2 separate regions of the Homo sapiens genome follow, and region 2 is linked to region 1. A link means that fine-mapping ties the variant in region 1 to the expression of a gene that starts in the linked region. Tissue or cell type: testis. Region 1 holds a variant in brackets; the other region holds the start of a gene. All regions are shown on one strand. Distances are from middle to middle.

Region 1 (2,684 bases):
TGCCTGTGTGTCTGCCGCTCAGGGTTTTTACAGGCACAGGATGGGGGTGTGGCAGGCTACGGTGGTCTTGGGAAAAGCAACATTTGGGCAGGAAAACAAAAATGCCTGTCCTTGGCTAGGCGCGGTGGCTCACGCCTGTAATCCCAGCACTTTGGGAGGCCAAGGTGGGTGGATCACGAGATCAGGAGTTCAAGACCAGCCTGGCCAAGACGGTGAAACTCCGTCTCTACTAAAAATACAAAAATTAGCCAGGCACGGTGGCAGGCGCCTGTAATCCCAGCTACTAGGGAGGCTAAGGCAGGAGAATCGCTTGAACCCAGGGGACGAAGGTTGCAGTGAGCTGAGATTGTGCCACTGCATTCCAGTCTGGGTGACAGAGTGAGACTCCGTCTCAAAAACTAAAATAAAATAAAAAATGCCTGTCCTCACCTAGGTCCATGGTCACAGGCTGGCGGGGTTAGGGGGTGCGGTTGAAGGAGCCTGGCTGGGGGCGGGGGGGGTGGAGCTTGCCAGGGACCACGCCCTTCCCCCTTATTATTATTTAAGAGGACCACGCCCTTCCCTTCCCAGCACTTCCTTTCCCAGCTCTTCTCTGGCCCCATCCTGTATCATTGCCAACTCATAGACACCCTCCCTGGCTTTGATTGGAGCACCCTGGTGAGGCCCAGGCTTGGCTGAGCAGCCTGCTGGCTCCCCCACCAGCTGCACCTGTCTGTAGGAGCACGCTGGTAGCATACGGAGCAGCTGCTTGCTCTCCTGCTGCCTGCAGATTCCCCGGCTGTGTCTTGTTACTTCCCTGCAACTCCTCAGTGCCCAGGCAGATGTCTGGCTCGTGATCGGTTCCCGAGCTTTGCTGCTGGAAGCCTCCTCAATGGCTAGGGTCCTAGGAGCCTCAGCTTCTATAACTGGCTCCAAGTAATCAGGCCAGAAAATGGATCCAGCCATTGGTTTTCCAGAGAGAGGACTGAGAGGATGCCCACCGGGTTCTGATGCACAGTAGGAAATGAGATGAATGCACGGTACTCTCCTGTACTAATCTGATGGGGGACTGGTTTGAGTGATAAGTGGATTTTGCAGCAGGGACACAACATGCTTTAGTGCACCTTCTCGTTCTTCCCTAGACCCAGGAGAAAGAGAAAAATGGGAATGAAAGGCAAAGAGGGACGTAAAGAGAGATTATTTCTCTCTACCAGAGTTCCACAACTGCTGGCCAGGGAGGAGGGTCAGGTCAGAGAAGGCACTGCCCTGCCATCCACCCCGGCTGTGTGTACCTGTTGCCTCAGGCTGTCCTACAGAGAGGCAATGGCCCTCTCTTTCTCCTGAGTAAAAGGCTCAGCTGGTGCGGGCTGACTGTTTTCGGGCATTGTCAGGAAAGCAGGAGTCTGGCAGCTTAAACCTGGTTGGTATGACCAGACACATTGAGGGATGGAGCCTTTTCAAAGCCTGTTGCTCAAAGCCAGCCACCTACTCACACACATTTCAAACATAGCCCCGGGCCCTAATTCAAACTGCAGCATTTCACTCAGTTCTCAGCATCAGATAAGGCCAACAGGCTTCCACTCCTTCAGAAGACACCCAGGGGTCCAAGGTAAATCTCGTTCCAAAGTGATTTTTGCCTGGAA[G/A]GGCCTAAGCCCCACCCAGGATGGGGACGACCCTCACTCTGGGTTAGGACATGGGCTCTTTGCACCTCACCTGACTGCTAACCCCTCAGGTTCTTCCTCAGGGCTGGCAATGGCCCTGGGATGGACCTGGATTCGGCTCTGACTCTTACTACTTGCATGATCACGGGCAGTTACATTACCAGAGGCAGATTCAGCACCACCCAGCCCACCAGAGCAAAACCCATAGGCCTTCCAAAGTGCTGTAATCCTAGCACTTTGGAAGGCCAAAATGGGAGGATCACTTGAGGCCAGGAGTTTGAGACTAGCCTGGAAAATATAGAAAGATCCCATCTCTGAAAAAAAAAAAAAACAAACAAACAAAAGAAAAAAGTTATCTGGGCTTGTAGTAAAAAGTAGAAAAAAGTTAGCTTTGCCTGTAGTCTCAGCTACTTGGGAGGCTGAGGTGGGAGGACTGCTTGAGCCCGGGAGGCAAAAGTTGTGGTGAGCTGAGACCGCATCACTGCATGCCAGCCCAAATGACAGAGCAAGACTCTTTCTCAAAACAAAACAAAACCTATAGGCCTTGTCCATCATTGGCAATTAGTTAGGAAATGTAAGTGCATCCACTATGCAAGAAACTGATCACATTGGTCACCTCCTGGATGGGGATCTAGATGGATAGCCAATAGAGGCAGAAAGAAAAATTTTCCATTCTTTGCCCTTTTGAATTTGAACTATATGAATATATTCTCTATCCACTAAAAACGTTTAAAGTTTTTAAGAAGTCAAATAACATCAATAGGATTCAGTGATTGACAGGGGCAGGCAGGGAGGGGACGGACAGACAGATGTGAAGGATGAGTCTGTGTTGCTAGGCTGGGTGACTGGATTCACCAAAATACAGACTACAGGAAGAAGAGGGTTTGGGGGAAGGAAAATACATTCAACCTTGGGTTGTTGAGGTAGAAATGCCAGAAATAGTTAAATGGAGATTTCAGCAAGAAATTGAAGATGTGTCAAGTTCTCAAGAGATGCTGTGGTATTGAAAATGTAGATTTGGGGTCATCATTTCAGAAGGTGCAT
Region 2 (2,684 bases), 59 kb after region 1:
TGCAGCAGGAACCTGGAGGTAAGGAGAGGCTCCTAGGAGAACAAAGGATTAGTCATAGGAAATGGTGGTGGGAGGAGGAGGTGGAAGGCAAAGAAAAGGAACTGTGTGGAAGCAAGGAGCTGGTTACCTAGGACTAAGCTCAGAAGGGAAGCAGCAGGGATTTCTGGAGACTGCACATCTGGAAGGTAGAACCAGAGATGAGACAACCAAAGGGGTGAGTCCAGAGCTGTAGGGGGTGAGCCACCGGGAACACCAGGAGTGGGGAGCAACAGCTGACCTCAGATCCTTTGGAGCCTGAAAGTCCTTTCATACTTTTCCTTTCATCAGCAGAGTGAACTGAGGACCACGGAAGGATTAAACCAAAAGTGGAAAGAGCTCGTGCCTGGGGGCCCCACTCCCAGGGAGGAAGCGTTGAGCAGTGGCTGGAGGAAGCAGCAGACAGTTCTGGGGCACACGGAGTCCCCCCTCCTGCCCTTCTACTCCTCTTACACCAGAGAGAGCTAACAAGGTAGGGAATAAGACAATTACCCAATTCAATTCGGTTTTTAAGCTGCTTTTATCTTTACAGTTCAGGGATCACTGAATCATCTGGAAAATAATTTCAGCTCTCTGCTTATTTTCACTAGATTGCTTAGCCCTAGGAATATTGGAAAACCCTTCATTCAAAGTCTGAGGTCCTTTCCTCTCTCCAATCCCCACAACCCAAGCTGGGTTTCCCTGGCCCCTCTCAGACCTGGATACCAAATTCTGGGTATTTATTTATATATATATATATATTTTTAATTTTTTGAGACGGAGCCTCGCTCTGTCTCCCAGGCTGGAGGGCAGTGGCGCGATCTCGGATCACTGCAAGCTCCGCCTCCTGGGTTCACGCCATTCTCCTTCCTCAGCCTCCCAAGTAGCTGGAACTACAGGCGCCCGCCACCACGCCCGGCTAAATTTTTTTGTAGGTTTAGTAGAGACGGGGTTTCATCATGTTAGCCAGGATGGTCTCGATCTCCTGACCTCATGATCCGCCTGTCTCAGCCTCCCAAAGTGCTGGGATTACAGGCGTGAGCCACCGCCCTCGGCCAATTCTGGGTATTCATAAACCAGCAGGAGGGAAACATTGATTCGACTTAGGAAAATGAAAACCTGCCTGCATTAGTGCTCATTGAAGGAAATGCTAATGAACTAAAGTGCAATCAATTATAGAAGTATTCTCATTCCACACATCACATCGTTTGCTTTACAGAATTTTCCAACTCAAGAAACAATTTTTATTTTCAACAGAGATTTAATTATAAAATGAATATAAATTCCACGTGCATTCATGATGTATACCTTGGAGTTAAGTGGGATTCATCTGTTTTTTTCATTTATAATGGGATGCAGTGGCTTAAAAATCCTATCACCAAGCCAAATTCAGCCCTTAGCATGCCTCTGAAACCACCGAGGAAGACTTAGCCACTTACCAAGAACAAGGTAACCTGTGTTCTCCCGGGTGTAAACCGCGTCTCTGTGAAGGGAAAGGGGGAAGAGGGCCGGCAAGGACCTCCAGTATCAGCGAGGACTATCAGGACGTCCAGCTAATAAACGACTTTTTCACTGTCCACACTTTAATTGGTTTACAGCCTTTTTTGTTTATTTATCCATAAGAGCTGCTGTTAAATGGCTCGGGAAGGTGCTCGCCTAATGGCTCGGTATCGCTGCCGGGCCTGTTGTGGGCGAGGCGGCTTGGAGGGGGCGCAGGCGTCAGCGGGGATTCAGAGCGGAAACGCATTTCGCCTGTAATGGACTCGGCGATTTTACGATACCAGGAGCTAGATCCACGGGGAAGTACAACACACGACCTTACTAAGCGGAGGGTTCCGCTTGATGCGTTTTTTATACGGCTGTACGTGATAAAATTCCAGATAACTTTGTTTCATCTAATAATAATAATAACAATAATAAATGGTTGTTTGACCTTTGCTCCCTGGGTCCCTTCTATAGGTCGCAGGCAGCAGAAAATGCTAATTGTGAAAGTGAGAACGCGCCTCCATGGAATACCCCCGGCGATCCCCTCCTCCTCCCCCACAGCCGCGGGTACCCGGGTTTTTGCCGGCGACCGCAACCGGCGGATTTGCTTTCTGCTGAGAGCCTCTTTTCTTTCTGCAGGGCCGAGCAAAAATATTAAATGGAAGCAAATGAAGCATCGAAATGGAGACCAATTTACAGAAATGTGCAATTAGTTGAGAAGTGCAAAGTAAACACTCCGGGGGTGGCAGGCGAGGCAGGGAGCAGGGGAGGGAGAGTGGGGCGCAGACTGAGTCCAGAGTGGGTGTAGGGGTGCCCAGGGAGGAGGGGAAGGGGGAGGAAAAGGAGGGGGAGGGGAAAAGTGGCCGATCTTTGTCCTGAGCGGAGCTTGCCGTCCGCTCATAACCGCGTCGCCAAGTCAACCCTCGGCGACTCGGCAGATTATCTCCAAGGGTCAACACGCCGCGGCCAGGCAACCCCCTCCAGCCTGCCCTCCTGATCGATGTGGTCACTCGCGGCCAGGGTGATAGGGTAGAGTTCTCCGCGGCCGCAGACAATGGACTCATTGACGCGGGCGCACAGAGATTAGGTGCCCGGGCCCCACGGCCTTTCACTCTCTGCCCCCACCAAAACTGCAGGTGGCACTTTTCCCTGAAGAAATCACCGAAACTCTCCCCGCCCGCCGC

The links. PIP is the estimated chance that this variant, and not a neighbour inherited with it, causes the effect. A credible set is the group of variants that fine-mapping cannot tell apart.
Region 2: it holds the start of PLUT, and the variant in region 1 is the best candidate, but not a certain one, in a credible set for the expression of PLUT in testis (GTEx, PIP 0.83).

What each region holds. Positions count from the first base shown.
Region 1 is chr13:27,856,843-27,859,526 of GRCh38, forward strand. All of the region lies in intron 1 of PLUT (PDX1 associated lncRNA, upregulator of transcription), which reads right to left. Among named protein-coding and RNA genes, the nearest start is that of PLUT, 59 kb to the right of the region's middle. The variant G/A (reference allele first, on the strand shown) is at 1,623.
Region 2 is chr13:27,915,696-27,918,379 of GRCh38, forward strand. PLUT (PDX1 associated lncRNA, upregulator of transcription) reads right to left here and starts at 1,596. Exons shown (of 5, transcript NR_047484.2): 1 at 1,455-1,596.